Homo sapiens: one gene and its partners. The protein of the gene in region 1 purifies or fractionates together with the protein of each later gene. This does not show direct contact. Each region holds a gene or a part of one and is shown in the gene's direction. Other genes may lie near its edges.

Evidence for each region.
Region 2: the proteins of DBR1 (region 1) and RIC1 purify together in Homo sapiens (affinity purification with mass spectrometry, with the first as the bait; one large-scale study listed by BioGRID). This does not show direct contact.
Region 3: the proteins of DBR1 (region 1) and MYH10 purify together in Homo sapiens (affinity purification with mass spectrometry, with the first as the bait; one large-scale study listed by BioGRID). This does not show direct contact.
Region 4: the proteins of DBR1 (region 1) and KIF2A purify together in Homo sapiens (affinity purification with mass spectrometry, with the first as the bait; one large-scale study listed by BioGRID). This does not show direct contact.
Region 5: the proteins of DBR1 (region 1) and LARP1 purify together in Homo sapiens (affinity purification with mass spectrometry, with the first as the bait; one large-scale study listed by BioGRID). This does not show direct contact.
Region 6: the proteins of DBR1 (region 1) and RBM34 purify together in Homo sapiens (affinity purification with mass spectrometry, with the first as the bait; one large-scale study listed by BioGRID). This does not show direct contact.
Region 7: the proteins of DBR1 (region 1) and TRA2A purify together in Homo sapiens (affinity purification with mass spectrometry, with the first as the bait; one large-scale study listed by BioGRID). This does not show direct contact.

The regions. Positions count from the first base shown.
Region 1 is NC_000003.12:138,167,933-138,172,390, reverse strand, and holds part of DBR1 (lariat debranching enzyme), read left to right. Parts: intron 1-677; coding exon 678-758; intron 759-2,198; coding exon 2,199-2,284; intron 2,285-4,458. UniProt on the Homo sapiens protein: Cleaves the 2'-5' phosphodiester linkage at the branch point of excised lariat intron RNA and converts them into linear molecules that can be subsequently degraded, thereby facilitating ribonucleotide turnover.
Region 2 is NC_000009.12:5,764,517-5,768,974, forward strand, and holds part of RIC1 (guanine nucleotide exchange factor subunit RIC1), read left to right. Parts: intron 1-897; coding exon 898-1,056; intron 1,057-1,145; coding exon 1,146-1,282; intron 1,283-4,453; coding exon 4,454-4,458. UniProt on the Homo sapiens protein: The RIC1-RGP1 complex acts as a guanine nucleotide exchange factor (GEF), which activates RAB6A by exchanging bound GDP for free GTP, and may thereby be required for efficient fusion of endosome-derived vesicles with the Golgi compartment.
Region 3 is NC_000017.11:8,623,771-8,628,228, reverse strand, and holds part of MYH10 (myosin-10), read left to right. Parts: intron 1-4,458. UniProt on the Homo sapiens protein: Cellular myosin that appears to play a role in cytokinesis, cell shape, and specialized functions such as secretion and capping. Involved with LARP6 in the stabilization of type I collagen mRNAs for CO1A1 and CO1A2.
Region 4 is NC_000005.10:62,353,960-62,358,417, forward strand, and holds part of KIF2A (kinesin-like protein KIF2A), read left to right. Parts: intron 1-1,199; coding exon 1,200-1,295; intron 1,296-3,731; coding exon 3,732-3,786; intron 3,787-4,177; coding exon 4,178-4,340; intron 4,341-4,458. UniProt on the Homo sapiens protein: Plus end-directed microtubule-dependent motor required for normal brain development. May regulate microtubule dynamics during axonal growth. Required for normal progression through mitosis. Required for normal congress of chromosomes at the metaphase plate.
Region 5 is NC_000005.10:154,793,158-154,797,615, forward strand, and holds part of LARP1 (la-related protein 1), read left to right. Parts: intron 1-437; coding exon 438-566; intron 567-642; coding exon 643-843; intron 844-942; coding exon 943-1,105; intron 1,106-2,017; coding exon 2,018-2,162; intron 2,163-4,458. UniProt on the Homo sapiens protein: RNA-binding protein that regulates the translation of specific target mRNA species downstream of the mTORC1 complex, in function of growth signals and nutrient availability.
Region 6 is NC_000001.11:235,150,781-235,155,238, reverse strand, and holds part of RBM34 (RNA-binding protein 34), read left to right. Parts: intron 1-126; coding exon 127-358; intron 359-2,473; coding exon 2,474-2,533; intron 2,534-4,458.
Region 7 is NC_000007.14:23,503,916-23,508,575, reverse strand, and holds the end of TRA2A (transformer-2 protein homolog alpha), read left to right. Parts: intron 1-1,040; coding exon 1,041-1,156; intron 1,157-2,309; coding exon 2,310-2,438; intron 2,439-2,762; coding exon 2,763-2,830; intron 2,831-3,006; coding exon 3,007-3,017; 3' UTR 3,018-3,796; downstream 3,797-4,660. UniProt on the Homo sapiens protein: Sequence-specific RNA-binding protein which participates in the control of pre-mRNA splicing.

The DNA.
Region 1 (4,458 bases):
GCTGGTCTCGAACTCATGAGCTCAAAGTGATCCGCCCACCTGGGCCTCCAAAGTGGTGGGATTACAGGGATGAGCCACCGCACCCAGCTTCATCCCTTTATTTAAATGTATATTCTTTCTAGAACAGTTTATAGATTTTACCAATGATGAGATCATATTTCAGAAATTTAGTTTCCCTACTTTGCTACTTACTGATCATCTTTTGATGTATTCATCCTATATTACAATATTGTGAAGAAGTGAAATTGTCAGAAGATGATCAATCAGAAATGAAACTAGAAGCTGTAGGTTCTTTATACCTTATACCTGTTGATTTTCAGGTTTATACATGTAAATCCATCATAGGACATTTTCCACCTCCCACTACCTCACCCGTGTATTCAGTTAGGTACCAAATTATGTCTGTTTCACTTTCAGTACCCTATCTCATTTGTCCCTTCCAGAATCTACTTAGTGTTTTGGCTCATCTAATTCCAGACCTTACCTTTATATACTGTTATAATATATCCCTAATACACTGTTGGCATATTATTATGTAAAAAGCATAACCTCATCATGGTGCTTAATTTTCAAATAATTTTAGAACTGTGTGGAATTCCATCTAAATGGAATGGTTTATTCAGTCGGTGTAGAGATTCCTTTTGCCTACAGTAATTTTATTTAACTGTATTGTTTAGGTTTGGCTGGTGTGGTAAAATACCGAGGTGTAAGGATCGGTGGAATCTCTGGTATCTTTAAATCTCATGACTATCGAAAAGGTATTGTTTTGAGAATTATTTTTAAACTTTAGAACTTGCATGCCCCAGAGTAAGTTAAGCATGATATGTACTTTGACTCTTTCATATATCTTTGTATCCTCGATATAGTTTTATCAAGTCTTAGTATTTTGCTTTTTTTTTTTTTTTTTTTTTTTTTGAGACAGAGTTTCGTTCTTGGTGTCCATGATGGAGTGCAGTGGTGCGATCTCGGCTCACTACAACCTCCACCTCCCAGGTTCAAGCCATTCTCCTGCCTCAGCCTCCTGAGTAGCTGGGATTACAGGCGCCCACCACCACGCCCGGCTAATTTTTTTGTATTTTTAGTAGAGACGGGGTTTCACCATGTTGGTCAGGCTAGTCTCGAATACCTGACCTCAAGTGATCCCACCCACCTCTGCCTCCCAAAGTGCTGGGATTACAGGCGTAAGCTACCACGCCCGGCCTGTATTTTGCTATTTTTTTATTTTTATTTTTAAGAAATAAAACAGTATAGATACAATTAAAGTTCATTGTTTATCTGTCCTCAATCCCGTTCCCTTCTTTTCTTCCCTCCCTGTCTTTGCCAGGCAGTCACTGTGTTGAATTTGGTGATTATAATTTACTTGATTATTTTACATCATTACCACATATGTAAGAACTTTAAACAATGTACTTGTTTTAAGCTTCATATAAATGTATCGTATTGCTTGTATCTTTCTCAAACTTGCTTCTTTGTTTAACATGCTTTGAAGTCTGTGTTGATACATGTAATCTAATCTGTTCATTTGTGAATAGTATTCCATTATATAAGTATATCACAACTGCATATTAATTTCATTGTGTCTGAATGAATTATACTTTGATTTCAAAGTTAAAGGAATAGCTTGGATTCACATCGATTTCACAAATTTCATGAATTACATTGACAGCTAAAACTTACATCCTGAATGTAACTGTTACAAGTCTGTTCCCTGCCACTTGGCTCTTTCTTATTCTAAACTGTTGGAATGGAGGTACAAAATAGGCTGTCTTCTCTGTGGCAGGTGTGGGTACAAATTGGAACCACTTTTGGGAAGCTGTTTATCAGGTTTTTCTATTTTATCTCAGGGATATCATTTATGCATATAATACACATATTTCTTTTTCGGCTTAAAACAACAATAATTTGTTATTTTATTAATATTGGGAGCATAAGGAACTAGTCTCTAGTCAACAGTTAGAAAGTAACTGAAGTGTGCCAGCAACCATGTGTGGGACCTTAGAAAGCAGATACACCCTTATTTGAGCCTGCAAAGGAAGGAGACTGCAGTCCACCATCTTTTTAAAAAATTTCCCTAGATAACTTTTTAAAATCGTATATATTGAAGGTGTACATGATATTTTGGAGACCTGTGTATATGTCTTTGTATTTGCAGTATTTAAGGAAATTAAATATAGCTTATTTTTCTGCTTCAATCTAAGGTCATTTTGAGTGCCCCCCTTATAATTCATCTACAATCAGGAGTATATATCATGTGAGAAATATTGAAGTCTATAAATTAAAACAGGTACGTAAAAAGCGCATTACAGCAGACTTGAAAACATTTTAAAGTAATTCTGTGCCAAAATGTATTTTGGTCATATTGGTATACTACTTTCAAGAAGAGCAATTCTGTATTTTTAAAATGTGGATCTTGAGTTTTTAGGAGGTTCACAGATGAACCTTTTTTTTTTCTTTTTTTGAGACAGAGTCTCACTATGTCACCCAGGCTGAAGTGCAGTGGCGCGATCTCGGCTCACTGCAACCTCCGCCTCCTGGGTTCAAGCAAGTCTTGTGCCTCAACCTTCTGAGTAGCTGGAACTATGGGCGCACACCACCACACCTGCCTAATTTTTTGTATTTGTAGTAGGGATGGGGTTTCACCATGTTTGCCAGGCTGGTCTCAAATTCCTGACCTCAGGTGATCCGCCTGCCTTGGCCTCCCAAAGTGCTGGGATTATAGGTGTGAGCCACTGTGCCCGGCAAAATTTTTTTTACTTCAATAATTACGAGTTTATTTTAGTAAGAATGAAAGATTTAATTCATGATTTCAAATATTACTTAGGTTAAGGCTAAAGAATACCTATTAAAGTGATATTTAAAATAAAATGTTAAAGTGATATTTTAAAGAAAATATTGAAATAAACATTTTATTTTATGTAATAGTAATTAAGTAATGGTATTAAATAGAAAATAAGTAATAGTAAAGATGATAGAGGAAATGGGAAAATTGTGAAGGTGGTATGGAAACACTGCTTAATTGCAGAGTAGGTGAAACTAGGTTGTTTGAGAACCCATTACATGGCTGACACTGGGCTAAACAGACTTCACACTTGGTATTTCATATAATCTCCACTCAAACCCTATGAAATAGATGTAACTCTTAACTTCATCCCTTTAAGGATGAGAAGCCAAGGCTCAGACAGGTAAGTAACCTGCCCAGGACTTCCCAAAGTTTAGTGGTAGAGCCTGCCTGACTGCACTCATGCCCATCACACTGTCTCTAGAGCCTCTGCAGGAGTCTAACAATTCTTGCAAGTGTTTCTTTTATGCCCTGTGCATACAGTTCCCTTAAATAGATTTTCTCTTTCACCTATCTAAATCCTACCAGTCCTTTAAGACCCAACTTAGATGCCATTTCCCAACCATGAGTTTTCTTCTTTTTTTTTTTTGAGACAAGGTCTCACTCTGTCACCCAGGCTGGAGTGCAGTAGTATGATCATGGCTTGACTCACTGCAGCCTCAATCTGCCAGGCTTGGGTGATCCTCCCACTTCAGCCTCCCGAATAGCTTGGACTATAGGCATGCATCACCTCGCCCAGCTAATTTTTTTCATATTTTTTAGAGACAGAGTTTCGCCATGTTGCCCAGGCTGGTCTCAAACTCTTGAACTCAAGCGATCCTTCTGCCTTGGCCTCCGAAAGTGCTGGGATTACAGGCATGAGCCACCATGCCCAGCCAGCCATGACTTCTCTAGTTTAGAGTCATTACCCTAGTTTGAATTTTTGTTGCATCTGTTGGCCATACCAGTTATTCAGTGGTTAGTCATATCTATCTAATATCTAATATTTTGTATTGTCTTGAGCAGTTATTTAAGTTTTTTTTTTTTTTTTTGAGACAAAGTTTCACTTCTGTTGCCCAAGCTGGAGTGCAACAGTGCGATCTTGGCTCACTGCAACCTCTGCCTCCTGGGTTCAAGCGATTCTCCTGCCTCAGCCTCCTGAGTAGCTGGGATTACAGGCGCCCACCACCACGCCCGGCTAATTTTTTGTATTTTAAATAAAGATGGGGTTTCACCATGTTGGCCAGGCTGGTCTCGAACTCCTGACCTTCAGGCGATCCACCCACCTCGGCCTCCTAAAGTGCTGGGATTACAGGCGTGAGCCACTGTGCCCAGCCGGTATTTAAGTTGTTTTAATTTCATTTTTCAAGTATTCGTTTCAGATTACTTGAAGGTTCTGGGGATAAGTAAAGTCTGGAGTATATTTTGTTTCCTTAAGTTGTTTAATGAAATACTAATTTATGTAGTAAACACAGTTTTTTAGTGTATACTATGTGAGCCTATTAGAATTTTTTTTTTCCTGGTAAATCTTTGGGTTTACTGAATCAGTCATGTTAGAGGTCTCGTGAAATCTAGTGTCTCTGGATCTTCAAAACAGTAATTTCTTTTTTCTTTTTTTTCTTTTTGAGATGGAGTTTCAC
Region 2 (4,458 bases), on another chromosome or scaffold:
TTCTTTCCAGTTACTGCAAAGTTGTTTCCATTGATGTAAGAAGCTAACCATAAACCTGGTTTCAATCTCTGCCTGAAGCAGATTTCCTGTCAGCTTCTTTGCTTCATGACAATGAACTGAAACCAGAGGAGACACTCAAGCAGAGGCCAGGTGGCCTTGAAGTATGATTCCATGGCTAACCCTAAAGAAAAAGACATAGGGTTTTAAAAATAGAATCAAAATAAATGCAGCTGTTTTTTGGTTCCGGGTCACTCCCTGCAACTTCACTGTATCTCCCTGACAATGTAATTTTTTTCTGCAACAGAATTCCTAAGTTGCTATGGATTGGCAGATAATAATTACAATTACAGTTGTCTATTAGGCACCTTTCCATAAAGACCAAGATAGGCAGGTTAAATTTGTGAAAGAAAAATGGAGGATTCTGAATGTGCAGCAGAACTTTACTACTTGCTATTGCCCAAAGCAAAGATTCTAGTCACATCCTCAGAAAACTCTGCAACAGGAGACAGACCTGACCTATTTTGGAGTCAGGCAAACCTCCCTTTTTTTTCTTCCTTTTCTGCTGATCTTCAACAATTTACTTAACTCAGTTTCCTCACTTGTAAAATACAAATGATATGCCTATCTGCAGAGTCACTGGGAGAAATAAATGAAATGACTTAAAGTATATGTATGCTATCTGGCATGTAGTAGGAGTTTAATAAATTATAGTTTACATACACCAGAAGAGTACTTGCCTCGCTTTTCCTTGTATGGTACTTTTTAATCTTATTATTAAACTAACCCCTGTGGTGGTGTGGCTACATTCTTTGAGTTTAGAAAACGAGATAAAGAATTGCTCATATCTTCCCAAATTGTGTAGTATAAAAAGAATGCTGTCCTGGTTGTTTTTTGTAGAATATGGAAGTCCCTGCAGTAAGTAGGCAACATGCTACCCTTCTATTCAACACAGCACTAGAACAAGGCAAGTGGGACCTTTGTCGACACATGATTCGATTTCTTAAAGCCATTGGCTCTGGAGAATCTGAGACACCTCCATCCACACCCACAGCTCAGGTTAGTTGCAAAAGTTACACATCTTCTCTAGGCCATACACCCACGTAGCATCTTTCTCTAATGGTACTGCATATGGTGTGTAATCCTAGGAACCCAGTTCAAGTGGTGGATTTGAGTTCTTCAGGAATCGAAGCATCAGTTTATCCCAGTCAGCTGAAAATGTTCCTGCCAGTAAATTCAGTTTACAGAAAACACTAAGTATGCCATCTGGTCCCTCTGGAAAAAGGTAAAATAATAAAGAGCCATTACTGCTTTTTGGGCATTCATGACACATTGCATTTCAAGACATTTACAAAATTAGGTCTTAATGGAAACAACTATTTAATCCAATTGCAGTTTCTTTTTCCATTCCCAAAAAGCAGAGGCCACACAGAAGGCTTCCCTTTTTCCTTCCTCCCAAGTTCACTTCAGCACCCTCTGAATAGTTTCTGCCCCTTTTTCTGGAATAGATCTTCATGTACCTGTTCTGAATGTAACAAACTTGTTTAAGACAGAGTCTCACTCTGTCACCCAGGCTGGAATGCAGTGGCACCATCTCAGCTCACTGCAACCTCCGCCTTACAGGTTCAAGCGATTATCCTGCCTCAGCCACCCAAGTAGCTGGGATTACAGGCATATGCCACCACACTCGGCTAATTTTCATATTTTTAGTAGAGACGGGGTTTCAACATGTTGCCCAGGCTAGTCTCGAACTCCTGGCCTCAAGGATCCACCTGCCTCTGCTTCCCAAAGGGCCGGGATTACAAGCGTGAGCCACCCTACCTGGCCAAATGCTACAAACTTTTTTTTCCCATAAGTTACTGGGGTCCAGGTGGTATTTGGTTACATTAATAAGTTATTTAGTGGTGATTTGTGAGATTTTGGTGCACCCATCACCCAAGCAGTATACACTGCACCATATTTGTTGTCTTTTATCCCTCACCCCCTCCCAGCCTTTCCCCCAAGTCCCCAAAGTCCATTGTATCATTCTTATGCCTTTGCGTCCTCATGGTTTAGCTCCCACATATCAGTGAGAACATACTACATTTGGTTTTCCATTCCTGAGTTACTTCACTTAGAATAATACTCTCCAATCTCATCAGGTCACTGCAAATGCTGTTAATTCATTCCTTTTTATGGCTGAGTAGTATTCCATCATATATACGTATATACAAGTTTCTTTATCCACTCGTTGACTGATGGGCATTTGGGTTGGTTCCACGATTTTGCAGTTGTGAACTGTGCTGCTATAAACGTGTGTGCAAGTATCTTTTTTGAATGACTTCTTTTCCTCTGGGTAGAACCCCAGTAGTGAGATTGCTGGATCAAATGGTAGTTCTACTTTTGGTTATTGAGGGAATCTCCACCCTGTTTTCCATAGCAGCTGTACTAGTTTACATTCCCACCGGCAGTGTAGAAGTGTTCCCTGATGGCCACATCCATGCCAACATCTACTGTTTTTTGATTATGGTCATTCTTGCAGGAGTAAGGTGGCATTGCGTTGTGGTTTTGATTTGAAAATGCAACAAACTTTTAAATTACCTCTGATGATAGAGGACCAAAAGGAAGATAGATAAATCTGTAGGTAATCCAAAAGCCTTCTTAAAGTCGTAATTTTACCTTTCCTTCTAATTATACTTTTTGATATAAATTTAGTGCTAATGCATTTGACACTCTTGTGACCTATTGATTAGAGAAGTTATTACACAGTCGGGGAGCCAAATGAATTGTATGCTGGAGACTGAAACTGCTATCACCCATAGATGGGATATTGTCTTCTGAGAGATGACTATGAATTCACACTAACATTATAAAATCATGAGAATTTCCTCTGGTTTGTGAGGCCTGTGTATTCCTTCCTATGTTCTTCTGTTGTTGTCTCATTTTTTTCCTTACCTAATCCTTTGTTTTATATTGTTCATATTCTCTTTTTTTTTTTTTCCCCAGGACAACATGAACATATGTTTATATTCTTACTACCGTGCTTGGGCACATAGTGAGAGCTTATTGAACGTTTGTTATTGTCATGTTTTACTGGGTTTTTTTGTTTTTTGAGATGGAGTTTCGCTCTTGTTGCCCAGGCTGGAGTGCAATGGCTTGATCTCGGCTCATCGCAATCTCCGCCTCCCAGGTTCAAGTGATTCTTCTGCCTCAGCCTCCCAAGTAGCTGGGATTACAGGCATGCACCACCACGCCTGGCTCATTTTGTATTTTTAGTAGAGACGGGGTTTCTCCGTATTGGTCAGGCTAGTCTCAAACTCCCGACCTCAGGTGATCCGCCTGCCTCTGCCTCCCAAAGTGCTGGGATTACAGGCATGAGCCACCATGCCCAGCCTGTTTTACTGTTTTTTAACAAGTGCTTACTACATGCCAGGCCTTATTCTAAGCATTTACATACATAGGTCCTATTTTAAACAACTCTATGAGGGTTATCCACATTGTATAGGTGAAGAAACAGAGGCCTAGGAAAATAAACTTAGTTATGTTCACACAACAAATGAGTGGCAGAGCCAAGATCCGAATCCAGGCAGTACTGCACCAGAGACTAGGCTCTTTACCCCACCACTAAACTGCCTCTCACTTAAAGCACCACATTATCCAGTTACCAAACCAGTTCCCCCACATTAGCTCATGTAAGTCAGGAATGAGAGACTATACTTAGGCAAGTTGTAATTTTTAAAAATTGGTTTCAGGACTGGCAAGGTGGCTAACACCTGTAATTCCAGCACTTTGGGAGGCCAAGGTGGGAGGATTGCTTGAGGCCAGGAGTTCAAGATGAGTCTGGGCAACACAGCAAGATCCCATCCTTGCAAAAATAAAAATACATTGGCTAGGCATGGTGGCAAGTACCTGTAGTCCCAGCTACTTGGGAGGCTGAGGTGGGGAAGATAGCTTGAGCCCAGGAGTTTGAGGTTGCAGTGAGCTATGATCACACCACTGCACTCCAGACTGGGTGACATTGTGAAACCTTGTCATTTAAGAAAAAAAAAGTTGGTATTCTTTTCATATGTCTGCATGACTCACACTGAGAAATTTAATTTCACTTTGCCTCTCTATCCTTAGTTTCTTTGATGTGCTCTCCTTCCCTCTTTTCATTGGGCTTTTCAAATATAGCATAGAGGTTTGCTGCCTTTCTTTCTGTCAGCCACCCATCACCTGCTTCCTGGTCTGACTTCTTCTGTCCCCCTTTTCCTGTTCCCTGTATTCATTCTACAAATGTGTCTTAAGAGCCTTCTGTGTTCCGAGGGTTGTGGTGTAACACGGAGGAGAAGCGTTGATACTTTATCTTCATTGTCAATCAGAATTAGATCTTGGATCTCTTATCTCCTTGTCAGCTTTATCAGTACCTCTGCGTAATAAGGATGTGAAATCCTCCAGTAAAGATTATTCTGTAGCTTTCTTGTGTTTCCACTTACAGATGGA
Region 3 (4,458 bases), on another chromosome or scaffold:
ACACTAATAACCCTCAGACCATCTTTATGTTCGCTAACAAAAAGATTCCTGTTTGTCTTTATTTCCCCTAAGTTATGGGTATCTTTTTCTATAAAATATATAAAACCTTTGCCAGATGATTCATTGGTTAAGCCTATACTTTTTAAGCCGTAATTGATTGGGTTTTTATTTAGTAGAAAGGTAGTATATAGCATTGTACACTACACACCCTTCAAAATTTCCTCCATGTCACCTTCCATCATTGTAGTGTGTACTCTGGAGCTGAACTCTGAGTTTAATCCCAGCTCTGCTACTTGTTAGCTGTGTGCCCTTGGGCTGGTTATTGGCTTTCTCTGTACCTCAGATTCCTCATCTGTAAAATGGAGATATTAATAGTGCCTACCTCATAGGGCTGTTGTGAGGATTAAGAGTTGATGTATGTAAACTGCTTAGAATAGTGCCTGGCCATAATTAGTGATATATGACAATGGTATCTGCTGTTTTAAAAATCATAGTGTTGTCCTTCCTGCAAAGCAAATCACTGGTGAGTGGTACACTGTTAAACACCAGTATTATCCAGATTGGGTACCAATGTATTATGGAGTGAAATAAATGTATTTGACAATTACAAGTGAAGAATTAAACTGAACAAAATATCTCCAATGGTCTCATGAACTCTATCAGGTAAACAATAATATGAACACTTAACAGCTGCAAAGCCCTCTGGTACAACGCAGGGTAGGGTAAGAAGAAAGTCAGGAGAACAGTACAAAATGTTAGGAGAAGGAAAAGGATTAAATTGCCACATTGACCTGAAAAGAACTTCTGAAAGGATGGCATTTGGGTCAGGAGTTGAAGGAATAATAGCTTTTTGGTTGTGGAGAAGTTGAATTTCACTATGAGGGTTGGGACCATTCACGTAAATATTGATCAATAGGTACAGATCCCCTGTTATATACCAGGGACTAGACAAAATGCTCAAGATACAGCGTGGAACAGATGACTCTCCTCATAGTGTTTAGTTGTAGAAGAGACTGAAAAGGTGAAAGTCATTGGTAATCCTACTACCCAGTAAAGACCCAATGAATATTTGTTCCGTTTAAAAAAAAAATACACACGTGTATGTAGTTTTCCCCACAAAATTGGGAACATGCTGTGTAATTACACTTTTGTGTTCTACTGGGTTTTTTAAAATACTAAATTACAAGCATTTCCCCATCTAGAAAAAGTACTGATAATATGTAAGATGTCCCAATTTGATAAAATAATTTTAAGATATATAATCTACTGCTTCTAGACCTGTTCTAGAAGTTATTTGTTAAATTATTCTAATTTATAGTCACCTGCTAAATTTAAGCATCTAATTACATGTCCAGTGTAAAATTTAAGAAGTGTGTGCGTGTCTACTGACAGCAAGACAGTTTCCTAAGTGCTCTGTAGGATATGCAGTTTACACCTGATAAGAATAGTAAGAGAAACTTGTCATATTTTGTTATAGTTGAATATTTTCTTTTAATAGATTCTACCCTTCTGAAAGGTGGAGTGTGTATCCTATTATTTGTTCTCAAATTTACCTGTGATGTTTCCCACCTTGAAGCCATGCCTCCTTTCTTCTTTTTTTTTAAATTTTTTATTTTACTTATTATTATTATTATTATTATTATTATTATTTATTATTATTTTGAGACAGAGTCTCATTCTGTTGCCGAGGCTGGAGTGCAGTGGTGTGATTTCAGCTCACTACAACCTCTGCCTCCTGGGCTCAAGTGATCTTCCTGCCTCATCCTCCTGAAGAACTGGGACTGCAGGCCTGTGACACCAAGCCCAGCTAATTTTTTGTATTTTTTGTAGAGACGGGGTTTCGCTATGTTGCCCAGGCTGGTCTTGAACACCTGGACTCGAGCAATCTACCTGCCTCGCCCTCCCAAAGCGCTGGGATTACAGGCGTGAGCCACCCCACCTGGCCTCCTTTCTTTTTACCAGTGTGCAACGTTTAAGTTGGAAAGAGACAACTTGTTAATAGTGTTATTAGACCAGTCCCTAGAGGCTTTTAAAACTGTTATGCAGAATGTACATGTATCTATGAATGTTTTCTGTATTGCCCTCTCCAAAGAGGATGTCTTAGAAGACTAATGCAAGTTTAGGTATAAAATGTGTTAGCAATTTTATTTGTATAGAAGTTTTAATAACATTAATCACATGTTGTGTGATTTTTTGTTTCATCTTATTTTGCGGTTTTTGTTTTATCCAAGTCTATAACCTTTAAGACATCAACATGTTATTTAAATTGTTATGAATTAGTCTAGAATTTGGTTTTCAACCTCTTTTTCTACTCTAACATACCTGCTGGTAGCAGTGGCGCACCATGGCAACCACAGAACTTTGGAGCAATGGTTGTCAAATGTGTCCCAGGACCAGCAGTGGCAGCAGCATCTGGGAACTTGTTAGAAATGCAAATTCTGAGGCTCAGGCTGGACGCGGTGGCTCACGCTTGTAATCCCAGCACTTTGGGAGGCCGAGGCAGGTGGATCACCTGAGGTGAGGAGTTCAAGACCAGCCTGACCAACATGGTGAAACCCCATCTCTATTAAAAATACAAAAATTAGCGGGTCATGGTGCAGGCCTGCCTGTAATCCCAGCTACTTGGGAGGCTGAGGCAAGAGAATCACTTGAACCCTGGAGGCAGAGGTTGCAGTGAGCTGAGATTGCGTCCACTGCACTCCAGCCTGGGCAACAGGGTGAAACTCTGTCTCAAAAAAAAAAAAAATAGTTCTCAGGCTCTACCCTATACCTACTGAATCAGGGACTCTGGGATAGAGCCCAGCAATCTGTATTTTAATAAACCCTCTAGGTGCTGCAAATGCATGCCTGAATTTGACAGCCGCTACTATAGAAGATGAGTGTTTGTAACGCATTACATTGCAACAAGTAATTTCTGAAGAATCTTAGCTATTTGGTTCTAGTAAATTATTTTTTTAAATTTATTTTTGTTTGTTTTTGAGACGGAGTCTTGCTCTGTCACCCAGCCTGGAGTGCAGTGGCACGATCTCAGCTCACTGCAACCTCCGCCTCTCAGGTTCAAGCAATTCTCCTGCCTCAGCCTCCTGAGTGGCTGGGATTACAGGCACCCACCACCACGCCTGGCTAATTTTTTGTTATTTTTGGTGGAGATGGGGTTTCACCATGTTGGCCAGGCTGGTCTCGAACTTCTGACCTCAGGTGATCCACCCATCTCGGCCTCCCAAAGTGCTAGGATTATAGGCATGAGCTACTGCACCCAGCTGGTTCTAGTAAATTATTAGTAGTAGTTAAAGGGCTAGATATGCACCAACACGCCTGGCTAATTTTTAAATTTTTCTGTAGAGGCGGGATCTTGCTATGTTGCCCAGGCTGGTCTCAAATATTTGGCTTCAAGCACTCCTCCCACCTTAGCCCCTCAAGTTGCTGAGATAACAGTTATGGGCCATTGTGCCCAGAAGTTGGTTGAATGTGTAACCACTATCAGTGATTAATCTTTTAGGATACAGATAGAGCCCTTTAGAATCTAGAGAACGTTATAGCACATATATACACACGCTAAGTGCATAATATTTTTATACCATTTCAGGGATTTTGTTGAAGTTGAGATTAGCTGATGGACTCAAGAACCTCTTAACAACCTTAGACTACTTTATGATTTCCTCTTGCCTACAAAGAACCTCTAGCATTTTTGGCTAGGGGAGTGGAGTGAACAGAGGGGAGAAGTGGGGATTTGATAGAGCAAGAGTAGGTACTCAGTTGGCTTCTTCTGTTGGTTTGAATGAAGTGATGGAAGCCATGCCTATGAAATTTATAATAACCTGGAATTTGGAGTAGCAGCAAAAATGTTTAAGTTGGTATCAAATCCCAAAAAGATCCTGTCAGGCAATCATGATGAGTCACATTAGAAAGATGATGGATGTAAAATCCTGCCATTTGGTCCAGAAAGCCAGTGCACAAGTAGAGGAGGGGACATAGCTTAGCCACAAAGTGATGGAGCTTCCTCTGCTAGCCCTTTGTGAGCCAATGGTAAATGGGTGCTAAATAAAACAACTAGGTCTTGAGATACATTAATTGTAAATGTCACAGAACCAGTACTTTCCTCAATGTGGCTAAGATAGTTGATGGTTCCTTTTTCTTCTGCACTGGTCAGACCATATCTGGGCTATGATGTTTGCTTCTGGGCCACACACTTTAGAGGGAAGACAAGCAGCATGTTGGAGTCTGTTTAGGCGAGAGATCCGGCAGGGGAAGGAGTCTTGGTGAATGAGGGGTGGAGGAGCTGCAGGATGGGAATAGAGGCCTGAACTGCTACCATGACATATTCAAAAGGCTGCCGTGTGAAGCCAAGTTATGCTTGTCTTTTGTGGTCCCAGTTGATCACATTAAGACCTCATGGGGCCATAGAAAAGCTAGAGGGAGACTGATTTGGGTTATTCATAAGAAGAACTTTAAGTCTGT
Region 4 (4,458 bases), on another chromosome or scaffold:
TGTTATTATACATAACTGCACCATTGTGCTTGTATGGCATCTATTACATTTTCAGAACTACTTTTCTCTAATAAAACATCAAGATTATTTATTTAATAGTATGTTCAAATGCCCTTAATCATGTTAAACTACCAGTTCAGATGTTGTGTTGTGGAATTGTGGACCTAGTATTATATCCAACCTGAATGAATCAGCTTTTATCTGAAAGTGACCTGAGAATGACCAGTTGGGTTTTGAAATGAATAATAAAACATATTATCTACTAATACTTAGCATAGATGCCACCTGGTGTTTCCTGTGGGTACTTCATAATACTTACACATCTCTCTGTGATCTCTTAATTCTCACTTCACAGTCTGCTTCTCAGTTGACATAGGTGGTATTATTTCCTAGAAGAAGGTTAATTGAAAGTAAGTTTCAGTAACAGTTTGTAATTTAGTTGCATTCAAAACAAATCTGAATATGATGTATAAAAAAATGTGACTTCTTAGAATGATTAATAATTTATTGTTCAAGGCTAGGAAAGACTGTTGACTATTGCTATTTGTATCTTAATCTGAATTTCTGTTTTGAAGCCAAATAAATTGTAGTTGGCATTCAAAAATTTGAATTTTAAAGTTTTTTTAAAATGATCTTGGCTTCTGATTCCTTTAAGTTCTATGTTCTGTTGATTTGGGGCAGTTTTGTCATTACTTAGTATTTTTTAGAAGGTCAGCAAAAATAGAAAATGAAGACAAATGAATCTGTATTTATACTTTGCTGAAACACTGGATTAAATTAGAAGATGAATCTGATTAAATGAATTTTCCTAGAATTTCAGCTTTTCTAGAGTTATTTGCCAGTGGTAACATGAGCATTATTTCTCTGTTGCTGCATTTTATAGGATAATTAAGGTATATGTATAACAGATGGATTTTTGAAATAGGTGAAGGGTAACTTCAATGAAGAGTCCTTAATTTGGAGTTAACAGAATGCATACCGACTAAGAGAATTGTGTTTGTAAAACACAATTTTACAAACACAAAGTGGTTCAGAGCTTATTATGAAACCACAACTGTGAAACTATATAATATCGTCAGTTTAAGTTTAGGCTTGGTTATGACAAATGGCACAATTTAATTTTAATTTTCAAACCAAATATAAATGTAACAAATACATTATTATATTTATAATGGTGAATTCTCTCTGTCTTCTAATAGGACGTTGATGCTACAAACCCAAATTATGAAATTATGTGTATGATCAGAGACTTTAGAGGAAGTTTGGATTATAGACCATTAACAACAGCAGATCCTGTAAGATTCTTTGTAAACCATTATTCTGGAACTTTTTATGCTTCAAATAAAAACGTGTTTGACACTTGCTAAATTCATATTGTGTTCAGCTATGTAGTTTTTCCTTTCCTTGTGGGTGCTCATTCCCCATATTTTAAGAAGAAAATCAAGAAATTATCCACATTAATGCTTATTTTCCATAATTTGGTATATGAGATATGCTCCCTATAGAGATGTCCTTCTCGAAGCAAAACCTCCCTGTCTTTGGGAGGGCAAAGCAACACTTAAAGGAGTGATAGCAGAAGACTCACTTTCCTTTCTGACTGTGAGTTATACTTTGATCTCAGTTCCAAGCTTATCTTTGTCTTGGGCTGTAGATCCCACCATCATTTCTAATTTACTATTGGTAATTTGTTAGTTTTAAATGTTATTCTGGCTTTTAACAATAAGTGATGGTTGTTGAGGGCTGCAGTGGACCAGAAATCTAGAACTGGAAAAAATCCTCTGCTGTTATTACTCAACTCCTTTGCTGTTGATGAATGAGAATTCATTGGACAGGGAGTGCCTTTTTTTTTTTTTTTTTGAGATGGAGTCTTGCTCCATCGCCCAGGCTAGAGTGCAATGGTGTGATCTCCGCCTCCCAGTTCAAGCGATTCTCCTGTCTCAGCTTCCCAAGTAGCTGGGACTACAGGCGCCTGCCACCACGCCCGGCTAATTTTTGTATTTTTAGTAGAAACGGGGTTCACCTTTTTGGTCAGGCTGGTCTCGAACTCCTGACCTCAGGTGATCCACCCGCCTCGGTCTCCCAAAGTGGGAGGCCTGTAATCATGCCTGGGATTATAGGCGTGAGCCACCACGCCCAGCCGGGAATGCTTTTATAACTAATTTGTACTTATAAAAATAATCCATCTGACATAGCATATACAGAATGTGTTAGTTACAAAAAAGACATTTGTGTTAGATAGATGTATTATATAGAATTGAATAGAATTGTTGATAATACTTGTATCCCACATATTTTAGGCCTTGCTATTCCTTCATGTGTTTCACTTACTGCATTAGAGCTCACCCTTTAGGACAGGAATTGGCAAACATTTTCTGCAAGGGTCTTTGGCTTTGGAGCTATATGGTCTTTGTCACAACTACTGAACTCTGTCATTGTATTGTAAAAGCAGCCATAGACAATACATAAATGATGGGTATGACATTTGTTTCAATCAATGTGTGTCAGTAAAATTTTGCAGAAGCAGGTAGTAGCTAAATTAGACCCACAGGCCATACTGTGCTAATCCTTGCTTTATGTTAATTATTATTAAAATGAGGCATGTATTGGGAACAAAATTTTTATAAAAAATACTTATGCATAAGAATTGGCATATTTATAAAATAGTTCAAATTATTTGGCTCAGTAATCGTCTGAGAATCCTGTTTCTTGCCATAGTTATCTTTGCTAGCAACTTTCCCTATGATCAACCTATGAAAATATGTCACTTAGTAGAATAGAAATGTTGACTTTTGTTGTGTATAGCACATCTTGAAGTGGATAATACAGCTTTTTTTTTTTTTTTTTGGAGACACAGTCTTCTCTGTTGCCCAGGCTGAGGTGGAGTGGCAGGATCTCGGCTCACTACAACCTCCACCTCCAGGGTTCAGGCAATTCTCGTGCCTCAGCCACCTGAGTAGCTGGAATTACAGGCATGCACCACCATGCCCAGCTAGTTTTTATATTTTTAGTAGTGATGGAGTTTTACCATGTTGGCCAGGCTGGTCTTGAACTCCTGACCTCAAGTGATCCACCCACCTTAGCCTCCCAAAGTGCTGGGATTACCCACCATGCCTGGCATCACAACTTCTTTTTTTTTTTGGTCCAGAGATAAAGTCTCACTGTCACCCAGGCTGGTGGGCAGAGGCATAATCTCGGCCCGCTGCAACCTCCACCTCCCAGGTTCAAGTGATTCTCCCACATCAGCCTCCCGAGTAGCTGGGACTACAGGCATGCACCACCACTCCCGGCTAATTTTTATATTTTTAGTAGAAATGGGGTTTCTCCATGTTGGCCAGGCTAGTCTCAAACTCCTGACCTCAGGTGATCTGCCCACCTTAGCCTCCCAAAGTGCTGGGATTATAGGAATGAGCCATCATGCCCGGCCTCCTCACAGCTTCTTAATGTGAACTTAATGCTACTAACAATAGTAGTACCCTCTACAGAATTATTTCCTAAAGTGATGGTTTTCCAAATAACAAAATAAGCAAGTTTCCATTACACTCAGAATTTTAGAAGTAATTATATCTGACAACCATTAAAATTTGTGCAAAGCTAATTTGTTTTTTAAGCTTACCTATCATTTATGCTATGTATAAATTTCTAAAACCCCTGGAGGAAATATTACATAATTTACGTTTTAGTGTTTTACATGACACTAATAATCACTGAAATAAAATACTTTTTATTTCTAGATTGATGAACATAGGATATGTGTGTGTGTAAGAAAACGACCACTCAATAAAAAAGGTATGGCACTTAATGAGCTCTAATAAAAGATTGATTTTATCTTATTTGTAATGTATTTTTATAATAGCAAATCAAATTGGTTTGGAAAAAATGTAAATCATTTCCTTTGATTTGTATGTAACCATTATGCAGATTTCTATGGCTAAACTTGTCAGTTTGTTATTGCTCTGAATCATTGCCATTCCGAGTCTTGCTTCACAGAAATCTTGATTTTGTTTTTACTTTGCTGTTGAAATATTTTGTCTTAGTGAGTTGCATTTTTATGGGATATTATCTTTATATGTACAGAACTTACTACTTGTATCTTAGTTCTTACTACTTAAAATAATTTTGTACATGAACTCAAATGCTGTGAAAATTATTGGGCATTGATTTTCATTTATTCTTTTAGAAACTCAAATGAAAGATCTTGATGTAATCACAATTCCTAGTAAAGATGTTGTGATGGTACATGAACCAAAACAAAAAGTAGATTTAACAAGGTACCTAGAAAACCAAACATTTCGTTTTGATTATGCCTTTGATGACTCAGCTCCTAATGAAATGGTTTACAGGTAGGTAAATTCATTTTAAATCAGAATTTTGTTCTTATGCCATGTGGTCATCAGCACCTTGAAATTTACATTGATTGTGGGATATTTCTTAAGAGGTGCAATATGCTGTTTTATTCTG
Region 5 (4,458 bases), on another chromosome or scaffold:
TGGCTTCCTATTTCCTTCTTCTTCTAGCTAGGAGGAAAGGAAGAGGGAAGGGTGGCCCCTTTCCTTTTAGGGACTCAACCTGGAGTTGGTTACTTCAGCTTAGCTCTCGTAGGCAGTGTTTTGGCACCTGTCTATAGGGACTCTGGAAAGCATGGTCTTCATCCTGGGCTGCCATGTGTCTGACTCCAGAAGGGGATTCTGTGGCCATGGAGACACTGATCTTGGGAGTTAACGAGGAGTCTCTAACACACTGACGGCCACTGACCAGCTTATTTTAGAGATGAAAAAGAGGGCTAATGTGTGGGAAAGGGATCTGCCCAAGGTAACCAGATTGTGATTTGGGCCCAAGTCCAGGGCAGAAGAAGAGGAGTTGGGTAGAGCTGGCTAGGAGTGGCCTCTCCCTCAAGCCTTTCTCATGTACCCATGCTGTCTCCCAGGAAACAAACACAAGTGGGTTCCATTACAAATAGACATGAAGCCTGAAGTGCCCAGAGAGAAACTGGCTTCACGCCCCACTCGCCCACCGGAGCCTAGACACATACCTGCCAATCGCGGAGAGATCAAAGGTATGCACTACCCACTATGGAGGGCCTGGACTTGGGAGACACCCTCAGGCCTGACCTGGTACCCCTCTCCCCATAGGGTCTGAGTCTGCCACCTACGTGCCCGTGGCCCCCCCCACCCCAGCCTGGCAACCAGAGATCAAACCGGAGCCTGCCTGGCACGACCAGGATGAGACATCGAGTGTGAAGAGTGATGGGGCTGGTGGGGCGCGGGCTTCCTTCCGTGGCCGTGGACGGGGGCGTGGTCGCGGCCGGGGACGCGGCCGGGGTGGCACTCGAAGTACGTGAGGCCCCTTTGGGCTCCGGGATGTCCAAGGGTGTGCAGCAGGGGTGGTGGGCAGGAATCTCCTCTCCCTCATGGCACCCGTTTCCCCCATAGCCCATTTTGACTACCAGTTTGGCTACCGAAAGTTTGATGGTGTGGAGGGGCCTCGTACGCCCAAGTACATGAACAACATCACCTACTACTTTGACAATGTCAGCAGCACCGAGCTTTACAGTGTGGATCAGGAACTGCTCAAAGACTACATCAAGCGCCAGATGTGAGTGTGCGGAAGCCTTCTTACCCTGGAGAAATGAGTGAGAGGTTAGGGGTTGCTAGAGTGTCATAGCTGGGCAGGCCCTTCTGGTGCTTAGCAGCAGTTTCAGCCTCAGGCTGAAAAGATAGCTTTTCTCATTGTTTATTAAAGAAGTGATACCACATTCTCATTGTTTATTACAGAAGTGGTACAACATTTACCTTAAGAAAGTTAGAAACTATACCATTACAAAAAGGAAGGAAAATATTTAGAATCTACCCCCTTCTGTTCTTCCATTTGTAATGACAACATTGACAGAATACTAACATTTATTGAATCCTTAGTATCGGCCAGGCTCAGTGTTTATTGTTGTAGAGGCATTATCTTAGTCCTGCAGTTCTTATCTGTTGAATTCCTATGAGCTGAGTCTTTTAGCCCCAGTTTATAGACAAGCAAACCGGCCCAGTAATTTGCACAGAATCTCACAGCTAGTAAGTAACAAAGCACAGATTTAAATCCTTTTCTGTCCTATTATAGAACCTTTGTTCTTAACCACTCTGATATATTGTCTCTCAGTCCAGTAAGGAAGTCATACAAGAAAATAAATGGTTGCAATAGAGTGTTTATAAGTGTTTTAGGAGCAGAAGAGAAAGTGACCAACAATATTTGGACTGGAATTTAAAGGAGGATGAGGAGTTTGACAGGCATGTCGAGGGGCTTAGGGCAGAGGGAGTGATTTGACCCAAGCAAGGTAGGGTGTCATGAAGGGATCACATCATTTCTTTTCAGCCCTCAACACTGTTGGTATATAGGATAAGGATGGGGTAGGTCAGAGGCTGTGTGAGATTGCTGGGGTGTGTAGCAGAACAAGGAAGGCATACTCATAAAACTGATGCACCAATCCCTCGGTGATAACTACTTCTTCCCTCCACTTAGTGAATACTACTTCAGCGTGGACAATTTAGAGCGAGACTTCTTCCTGCGAAGGAAAATGGATGCTGATGGTTTCCTACCCATCACCCTTATTGCTTCCTTCCACCGAGTGCAGGCCCTTACCACTGACATTTCACTCATCTTTGCGGTATGTCTTCCTCCCTGGAGCTGGGATGCAGGGGAAAGAAAGGTCCTTAGGGAGCTGGAGTTTGGGCCAAGGCAGAAAGCCCTGGAAGAGTCATCATCTGATGACTTCTGCTGAAGTCTCAAGGCTTGGCTAGTCTCCTCCTCTCCCTCCTTCCTTCCTTTCTCTCCCTCTCTTGCTCATTATGGAAAATGTCAGACACTTAACAAAAGTAGAGTAGTATAATGAGCCCATCATCAGCTTCGGCAGGTATCAGTTTATGGCTAATCTTATTCCATCTGTACCCTCATCTGTTTATTCTCACATACTACATTGAAGAAAATCCTAGAAAACCTAGCATTTTGTTCACAAATATTTCAGTATAGATTTCTAAAAGATAGACTTGTTAAAAGAAAATAGCCACAGTATCATTATCATACCTAAATTAACAGTTTAACATATTAACAGTTCCTTAATATCATCAAATATTTAGTTCAGATTCATCCCAATTGGCGCCATATATATATTTATATATATATTTTATATATATTTATATATATTTTATATACATTTATATATAAAATATACATTTATATATATTTATATATTATATATTTATTATATATTTATATTTATATATTATATATTTATATATTATATATATTTTTATACATATTATATATTTATATATTATATATTTTTATATATATTATATATTTATATATTATATATATTTTTATATATATTATATATTTATATATTATATATTTATATATAGTATATATATTATATATATATTTTATATATTTATATATAGTATATATATTATATATATTTTATATATTTATATATTATATATATATTTTATGTATTTATATATTATATATATATTTTATATATATATATAGTTTGTGAGAATCAGAATCCAAATAATACCTATAGGCTGGGTGCAGTGGCTCACACCTATAATCCCTGCACTTTGGGAGGCCAAGGGGAGGGTCATGTGAGCCCAGGAGTTCAAGATTAGCCTGGGTAACATAGCAGGACCCTGTCTCTACAAAAAACTAACAAGACCTGTGTATTGTCTTATTAAGTCTCCTCTTGCCTCTATTTTTCTTTTTCTTTGCCGTTTATTATTTGAATAGACTAAGTTGTACATCCTGTAGGATTTTCCACAGGGCACAGGGATGTCATTTTAACATGTTCATCTGTACTCCAAGTTTTTTGTAAATTGTGATCTAGAGGCCTGATCAGATTCAGGTTTTGAAGTTTTTTCCCCTCCTTGTCAAGAATACTTTATCATAATGATGTATTTTCTCTCAGGTGGCACATAACATTTCATTTGATTGTCTCTCTTGTGCTATAAGCTGCCAGCAGTGTTCGTTAGGATTGCAAAATGACAATATACTAATTCTGTCAGTCGGTCTTCATTTATTAGGTGGAATACCTCTTCAAGAAGTAACTTTGCCTCATCAACTGTTCAGTTACCAAGAGGTATAGTTTGTTCAGGAAGGGCAGATTAATGTTTGATCTTCCTCCCTTTGTTAGCCAGTTTGCATAATTATGAGTTGATCTCTAATAGGTTTCATAGGTGACCAGTGAGATTTGGTGGTTTGTTTTCGTATCATTTGTTATTATAAGCTTATGGGCTCAAACGTATTTATTTTGGTCCATTGCAGTTAATGGATTGGATCAAATTGTCCCACCTTTGGTCAGTGGGACCCTATACATTTCCTGCCCCAGATCTGGAATTGGCCACTTTTAAAAGGAATTCTAGTTCCTTTCTTTTGGGAAATGGTATTTAGATACCAGTCTGAGTTATAGGGGTGCTTTATTGCTACTTGGTTGGTCATTCTTTCTAGATGATTTTTTTGTTTTTTGGTGAGATAAAATACATCATGGAGTTATTCTGTTTTGTTGTTGTTGTTTTTTTTTTTTTTTTTTTTTTTTTTTTTGAGACAGAGTTTCACTCTTGTTGCCCAGGCTGGAGTGCAGTGGCATGGTCTCAGCTCACTGCAACCTCCACCTCCCAGGTTTAAGCAATTCTCCTGCCTCAGCCTTCCAAGTAGCTGGTATTACAGGCATGCACCACCACACCCAGCTAATTTTGTATTTCTAGTAGAGATGGGGTTTCACCATGTTGGCCAGGTTGGTCTCGAACTCCTGACCTCAGGTGATCCACCCACCTCGGCCTCCCAAAGTGGTGGGATTACAGGCATGAGCTACCGCGCCCGGCCTGTTCTGGTATTTTCTATTAAAGGGTCTTTACGTAGACTTGTGGATCTTTTATTTTACCTACTGCTTTCTTCCATGCCCATAA
Region 6 (4,458 bases), on another chromosome or scaffold:
AAATCTAGGAAAATTCAGAAGACATTGGGAAATATTTCTAGTCGGGAGGGTAGGGCTGTGCTTTGTCAAATACTAGACCTAACTGGCATGACTCTTACTGCTTATTTTATTTTTTGCCTTAAAAAGGGAAAGCGCTCTAGCGAGTGCTGATTTAGAAGAAGAAATTCACCAGAAACAAGGGCAGAAAAGGAAAAATTCTCAACCTGGTGTTAAAGTAGCAGATAGAAAAATACTTGATGACACAGAAGACACAGTTGTCAGTCAAAGAAAGAAAATTCAAATCAACCAAGAAGAAGAGAGATTAAAGAATGAGAGAACTGTGTTTGTTGGGAATTTGCCTGTTACATGTAATAAGAAGGTGAGTTTGTATATGGTAAAAGTTCAGAGAAGTTAATAACTTTGTTCTTCCTGTGTTGAATAAGCATTCAATAGTAAGTCATGGATATAACTTCATTGTAAATTATTACATAAATCATCCTAATATGAATGGATTCCAGTATCCACCCCCTCCTTTTCATTCCTGTAGTCCCTGCCAATTCAGGCTTTTGCAGATTATATTTGAATATTGCAGTGACCTCCTGCCTGGTTTCTTTCTTTCAGCCTTGTCTCCTGTTATATGCCACTAGAAAGTAAGCTCCATATGTTTAAAGATGTCTTTCCTTTTTCTTTTCTTTTTCAGGACAGGTTCTCACTGTCACCTAGGCTGGAGTGTAGTGGCATGATCATTGCTCACTGCAGCCTCAAACTCCTGGACTCAAGTGATCTTACTGCCTCAGCCTCCTGAGTAGCTGGGACTACAGGCGCACGCCACCGTGCCTGGCTAATTTTTGTGTTTTTTTTTTTGTGACTATGTTGCCCAGGCTGGTCTCAAACTCCTGGGCTTAAGTGATCTGCCCTCCTTAGCCTCCCAAGGTGCTGGGACTTCAAGCATGAGCCACTGGGCCTGATCCTCTTTTTTCATCATTCTGTCTCTCTCTCTCTTTTTTTTTTTTTGAGACAGAGTCTCGCTCTGTTGCCCAGGCTGGAGTGCAGTGGCGCGATCTCTGTTCACTGCAAGCTCCGCCTCCTGGGTTCACACCCTTCTCCTGCCTCAGCCTCCTGAGTAGCTGGGACTACAAGCGCCCGCCACCACGCCCAGCTAATTTTTTGTATTTTTAGTAGAGACGGGGTTTCACTGTGCTAGCCAGGATGGTCTCGATTTCCTGACCTTGTGATCCGTCCGCCTCGGCCTCCCAAAGTGCTGGGATTACAGGCATGAGCAACCGCACCCAGCCTCGTTCTGTCTCTTGACACCTGAAATGGTGCCTTGTGCATAGTAAATATGTGTTGTTTAAAGAATGAAGATGTCCTGAGTTTCTTCCGTTGTGTGACGATCACTGAAGCAAAACCTGCCCTTTGCTTCTGCATGTTCATGTGATAGTAACTGTTGCAATCCTTAGCTCGGTATCCTGCTCATATTTTGAAGGACAGTTTAAACTCTACTTGATTAAAAACAGTAGAAAAACCTTTTTGAGGCCAGGCGTGGTGGCCCACACCTGTAATCCCAGCACTCTGGAAGGCCAAGGCGGGCGGATCCCCTGAGGTCGGGAGTTCGAGACCAGCTTGGCCAACATGGTGAAACCGCTTCTCTACTAAAAGTCCCAAAAATTAGCTGGGTGTGGTGACACATGCCTGTAATCCCAGCTACTTTGAAGGCTAAGGCAGGAGAATTGCTTGAACCCAGGAGGGGGAGGTTGCAGAAGCCAAGATCGTGCCACCGCACTCCAGCCTGGGTGACAGTGAGTGAGACTCTGTCTCAAAAAAAAAAAAAAAAGTTTATTCCTGGTTTAAACCAATGTGAAAACATGAGAGAATCTATGGAAGTTATAAGTCTATCCTTAATTTACATGTGATAAAGGTTATAAAAGATTGAAAGAAAAGCATACATCCGATGGATACTAATAGGAGCTTGAATTGTGTTTTCTTTTTTTTTTTTTGAGACAGAGTCTCACAAGTTTCAGTAAAATTTTTTTGTTCATCCAACTGAATAGTCACCTACTTTCCTGAAATGTTCTTAAAAACTGGCAGTAGGCCGGGTGCGGTGGCTCATGCCTGTAATCCCAGCACTTGAAGAGGCTGATGTGGTTGCATCACCTGAGGTCAGGAGTTTGAGACCAGACTGGCCAACATGGCGAAACCCCGTCTCTACTAAAAATACGAAAATTAGCTGAGCATGGTGGCGGGCGCCTGTAATCCCAGCTACTTGGGAGGCTGAGGTATGAGAATCACTTGAAGCCGTGGGGGCGGAGGTTGCAGTGAGCTGAGATCACACCACTGCACTCCAGCCTGGGCGAAAGTGCAAGACTCTGTCTCAAAAAAAAAAAAAAAAGCCTGGCAGTAGAGGATTATCAGACAATTTTTCTTAATTCCTTTTTGTAGCACTTATTTGATGTTCTGAAGGTCAGCTAATGTGTATTTTTTTTTTTAATTTTAGAAGCTGAAGTCGTTTTTTAAAGAGTATGGACAAATAGAATCTGTACGATTTCGTTCTCTGGTATGTTTCATTCCCCCGTAAAATTACATAATATTAAAATTTATTGCATTTAAATCAGATGAACTTATTGCTGTTAGTGAGATGGTGAAGCACTTTAACCTTTTGAATCAATAGGTTCAAATTTAACCCAAGAAAAGAGTTGCTCTTACTATCTACTGCTGACTCTTGAACTTTTTAAATAATGTATTGAGTTTACTTAATAAAATGATACTCTTGCTATGAAAGCCTGCAATGTACTTTGGAGGGTGGATGGGTGACTTATTTACTGTGTCAGCAGAATAGACTGAAAAGTTAATACTGATTATCATTGCTGGAATCCTAGGCATTCTCTTCCTATGTCCCATCATACACATTAGTATGGGAGGTGGGTATGATTGCTGCAAACAGTCTTTGTTCTCTGAGCACAGACAGATAAAGAATTTATGTCAATTTAATATTAAAACTTTATAGAAGTGAGTTGGATTTTACCAGCTCAGCACTCTGAACCAGTTATAGCCACATTCTTTGGAGCAGGAAATAAGTATCATTTATATTTGGTTTTCCCATACATGATTTTTTTTTTTAACTGCATAGGCATAGTTAGTTGACGTACCATAGTGTACATTTTTGGGCACTATTACATAATTAATGTATATTAGAATATAGGAAATGTTTATTCTATTTTTTTTTTTGAGACAGAGTCTCGCTGTGTCTCACCCAGGCTGGAGTGCAGTGGTGCGATCTCAGCTCACTGCACCCTTCGCCTCCTGGGTTCAAGCAATTCTCATGCCTCAGCCTCCCAAGTAGCTGGGATTACAGGTGTGCGCTACCATGCCCGGCTAATTTTTGTATTTTTAGTCCGGACAGGGTTTCACCATGTTATCCAGACTGGTCTCAAACTCGTGACCTCAGGTGATTCGCCTGCCTCAGCCTCCCAAAGTGCTGGGATTACAGGTGTGAGTCACTGCACTTAGCCTTTTTCATGTTTCTAATTGCTCTTTCTCATGTGATTCTCTGGAATAGAGTTTCTCAACCTCCATACAGTTGACATTTTGGGCTGGATAATTCTTTGTTGTTGGAGGCTGCCCTTTGTATTATAGGATGTTTAGTAACATCCATGGTCTTTACCCACTAGATGCTGGTAGCACCTCCTGCACCTCAGTTTTCACAATGGAAAATATCTTCAGGAATTGCCAAATGTTAGAGGAGGCACAACTGCCCACTTCTATAGAAGTAGACGTTACCCAAAGCTTTGACAGTGCCCATAATTTCTGTCAGGGTATTTATTTCCCACTCTTATCACATATCTTTTGTCTGCCCTTCTGAGTTCCATTTCCCTGTATTAGACCTTTGGCTGATGCATTAGTGTGGGTGTCTTGCCAGACCCTGATTTCAATATATCTGCTTACTTCCATCCATTCTCACCCCAACCCTATGCTGCCTACTGATTTTTCTGTGGTATTTAGTGGCACCCAGGCTGCAGGTTTTGTGGTTGCCTTTGACTCTTCATTGGCTCACCCATGCTAGTGTTTGCCACTCCTGTCCGTTTTTCAACTGTGATTTCTTCCTAATATGAGTCATTCCTTTCTTTTTTCCTTGTCCTACCTAAGTTCTCATTACCTCCTGTCAGAATAGTCGCAGAGGCCTATTGTAGTTCCTTACCTTCAGTCTTCCTCTAATTTGTCCAACAAAACACTGTGAACTCAGTCTTCCTGAAGCTCTTCTTCCCGGAACCCTTACCTCTTTCCCTGCCTTGCATTAATGAAACGCCCTTCCCCCCATCCCCCCAGCCGCCACACACACACCCCTCACGGGGCCTGCTATTGCCTTCTCCCCTTTGGGGAGCCTACCTTGATTCTCCCCAGTCTCTAGGCTACCAGTGTGTCCCTGCTATGCATTTGACAGCACCCATCCCTCATTACAGTACTTAGTACACTCTACTGAAA
Region 7 (4,660 bases), on another chromosome or scaffold:
CTGCAGTGAACCGAGGTCACGCCATTGCACTCCAGCCTGTGCAACAAGAGCGAAACTTGGTCTCATAAATAAATAATAAAATGCATTCCATTGAATGGAATACTGTTTAGACCCCTTCTCTACCAAGAATTTTTGTTTTAATTAGCCGAGCATGGTGGCACAAACCTGTGGTCCTAGCTACTTAGGAGACTAAGGCTGGAGGATTGCATAAGCCAAGAAGTTTGAGGCCACAGTGAACTATGATCCACTGCCAGCCTGGGCAATGGAGTGAGACCTCCTTTTTTTTTTTTTTTTTTTTTTAATGACCTTTAGTTTATGGGACACTCTTACGGAGAAATATTTGTGGATACATAAAAATTGTGTAGTTTTTATTAGTTTATTATACTTTTATTAGTTCAGTCTCAATAAAAGGTTGAAAGGCATTACGATAAATTTGTTCTTGTCTGTTTATATCATTTCTTCTTGGCTGCTCACTGAGTCTTAATCAGTGTACTAGACTGCAAACTAAAGAATAAGATTGGGGGCAGGTTATAAAAAGAACATGTATAAAGCTTAGCAAACCCTTTTTAATGTTCTGAAGTCAGTCTTTGTAAGTGAAATCGCTGGAGACTAGAAAGTATGAAATGGCAGTCTACCTGGGCAACCTACAAAAAATTTAGCTTGAAAAGACTTCAGTCTCCGCTCCCCTGTTGATCTCATGGAGTGGGGAATGGGAATTGAACCAGAACTGGAAAATTATTTAGGAAAGTTTGTTAACTACTCTTTGTTGATCTCATGGAGTGGGGAATGGGAATTGAACCAGAACTGGAAAATTATTTGGGAAAGTTTATTAACTACTCTTTCTGCTGAGTAAATTTAAATGTGTTCTGGACATTGTTGAGGTCTAGAATTGTCTATACAATGCCCTGTACAAGCTACATTGCTGTCATTTTCAAAATCAGGAGTTTATTTGGATTACATATACTTTGTGCTTAATTTTAAGTAATGATTACTTCAAGACTGGTGAATTATACGTGACTTTTTGTGCCTGTTCTTTATAGGCTATGGAAAGGGCAAATGGAATGGAGCTGGATGGTAGAAGAATTCGGGTGGATTATTCTATAACCAAGAGAGCGCACACACCAACACCAGGCATCTACATGGGCAGACCAACTCAGTAAGAGTTCAAGTTTCCTAAGCTAAACTATGAAATCCACCAGAAATATGTGCAAAATTTTGATTACTCAGAAACTTTTTTCCTATAATTAGAATTGATTCTGGCAAGGGGCAACATGGCAAAACCCTGCTTCTACTAAAAAAAAATAAAAAATCAGCCAGGTGTGGTGGCACATGCCTGTAATCCCAGCTGCTCGGGAGCTGAGGCACAGGAATCACTTGAACTTGGGAGGCAGAGGTTGCAGTGAGCCTGGGCAACAGAGTGAGACTCTTTCTCAAAAAAGAAAAAAAACATAAGTAGGGGTTTTGATAATGTTTTTAAATATACAACCCTCCTGGCTGGCTCACGATGTTCATTTGCCGGGCGCAGTGGCTTACACCTGTAATCCCAGCACTTTGGGAGGCCGAGGCGGGTGGATCACGAGATCACGAGATCGGGACCACGGTGAAACCCCGTCTCTACTAAAAATACAAAAAATTGGCTGGGCATGGTGGCAGGCACCTGTAGTCCCAGCTACTCAGGAGGCTGAGGCAGGAGAATGGCATGAACCCCGGAGGCAGGGCTTGCAGTGAGCCGAGATCGCACCACTGCACTCCAGCCTGGGCGACAGAGCAAGACTCCGTCTCAAAAAATAAAAATAAAATATACAACCAAAGGCAGTATTCACAGAGGTATTTCTTGGGAATAAAAGAAGGAATATAGTCATTCCTTGGTATTCTCTTTGGTGTCCAGAGTTACTTAAAAATTCTTGGTGTTTATTGCCTTTTAGTCACAGGGATACACCTTTTATTCATTTATTTATTTATTTACCAGTCTCATTTAGCAGTAGGAATGCATCTTAGCATTTTTATACTGCTGCTCAACACAGTGCTTCATCGTTTCAATTTGTTGAAAAGATTTTAATTTGGGCAGTGCATTAGTAGAAAAGCAGTTAATAGTTTTGAGAGTTTTGTGAAGCCCTTCTTGATTATGTATGTAGGGAATAAGGCAAACCAGAATACCATGGGAGTCAGTAAAATGAGATACGGAGGCAATTTCTCATGAAAGGGATGTTCTTCCTCACTTTTCTCTTTTTTAAGCCATTCAATTTGTATTAAAGTGTCCTGGAAAATAGTCATTCACACTAATGGAGAATTTTTACATTTTTCTGCAGTAGTGGTGGGGGTGGTGGAGGAGGCGGCGGCGGTGGAGGTGGAGGTGGTGGCAGACGTCGAGATTCTTACTATGATAGAGGATATGATCGTGGGTATGACAGATATGAAGACTATGATTACCGATACAGGTAATGTTTTAACTTGAGCTTTCTGTTCTAAATTAGATGATAGTAGTGTTACTTGGCACTTTTATGTTGGATACATATGAATAAAAACTTGATTTTTAAAATAGATCATATATGACGCCTTTGGGAGCAGAAGTTAGCAGTCTGTATATGTCAGTATTTTGTTGTGCTATATACTTTTCTGGTCTCATTGGCAGAAAGAGAACTTAATATTAAGTAGTTATCACCTTAGGTACATTATTATTTTGAATGATGAGGAATTTTTATTTTCATCTGCCTCAGTGGAGTGATTATATAGTATGCTAAGTAATCTTTCATTTCTTACAGAAGACGATCACCTTCTCCTTATTATAGTCGATATAGATCACGATCAAGATCTCGTTCCTACAGCCCAAGTATGTGAACTTTACTTTTGTAGCATAAAAAACCTCATTTCTAATTAATGGCTTACTTTAGAATATTAGAGTATAAGGTGGAAGGTGGCAGTTAATAGTTGGAAAAATATGAGGCAAATTAAACTATAATTGTTAACTTTTTTTTTTTTTTTTTTTTTTTGCTTTTTCTCTTTTAGGACGCTATTGATAACGGAATGGTTGCAATTAAGGACATTTTTTTTCCTCTTTTTTTTTTTTTTTTTTTTAATTCTGAGATTTCCCCAAGCTGTGGATTCTTCCTACTCCTTAAGAAAAAAACTTTGGTTTATTTAGCATCTACACTTTTGTCAGTTGTGTTGCTGTTTTCCACCCATTTTATTATACTCTTAAAAGATGTAATTGTTGTCATTTTGAACAGTTAAACATCTTGAGTATAAAAAGAACCCCAATGTTATGTTATGCTTTGTAAATTTTTTTTTTTGCTTTTACCTAGATAAACTTCTAGCTAATCAAATAAGGAAAGAAACTGTCTTTTTAAAGCTTCTTTTGTGTTAGATACTGTATTAGAGATCTGCATTTATCATGAGTTCCTTTTTTTTTTTAACTTTATTTTTGGGAAAGTAACACATGAAGTAGTTCAGTCATGTCAGGTTTGTCTGGGGTGGAATGGAACAGTCAGGTAGTTGAAAGTTTTTTTTTAGAGATGAAAAGCTTGTGAACTCCTGTAAAACATGCTGTATTTGAAATACATCTGTTAAAACTTAAAAACTAAAGTGTGATTTTTTTTGTTGTTGTTAAGTTTATTGAAGTTTATTCCCTTAATCAGTGAAGGACAACCCTTATTTATTACCTAGAGCAGTTGTATAATTCGCTGTTAGAAATTTTGGTATTGGGACAGTGGATAAGCAGGTTATCACATAGCATAGAATTCTTAAAAGATACATGTGGGGAAAAGTAGTCTCAAATAAAAGCTAATTTCTTTGAAAATGGGATTGTCTCTTTATTGTGGTACCATGGAGAAATATGATTGAGGAACTGGTCCTTCCTTTTCCCTCACATCCCCCCAGTGTGTATTTATATGAAAGTTTACCCATCCTGAGTTTTAACTTCCCAATATTTCTCATTTTTAAAAATATTTTTTCTTACACTAGAATGTTATTCCTTGTCTTTTCTTTGGTTCTTTTAAAACCCTTGTTTTTCTTCTCTTTTGGGGGAGACCGAATTGTAAATATTGAGAATATTCAGTACCAGCACCATGCTGAAGGAAAGATAGGTAGCTAATACCTTTTTTTTTTTGAGACGGAGTCTTGCTCTGTCACCCAGGCTGGAGTGCAGTGGCGCGATCTCGGCTCACTGCAAGCTCCGCCTCCCGGGTTCACGCCATTCTCCTGCCTCAGCTTCCCGAGTAGCTGGGACTACAGGCGCCCACCACCACGCCCGGCTAATTTTTTGTGTATTTAGTAGAGACGGGGTTTCACGGTGTTAGCCAGGATGGTCTCGATCTCCTGACCTTGTGATCCACATGCCTTGGCCTCCCAGAGTGCTGGGATTACAGACGTGAGCCACTGCACCCGGCCTACTTTTTTTTTTTTTTTTTTTTTTTGGAGACAGAGTCTCGCTCTGTTGCCCAGGCTGGAGTGCAGTGGCGTGATCTCAGTTCACTGCAAGCTCCACCTCTCTGGTTGACGCCATTCTCCTGCCTCAGCCTCCCAAGTAGCTGGGACTACAGGCACCCACCACCACGCCCGGGTAATTTTTTGTATTTTTAGTAGAGGGTTTTCACCATGTTAGCCAGGATGGTCTCGATCTCCTGACCTCGTGATATGCCCGCCTCAGCCTCCCAAATTGCTG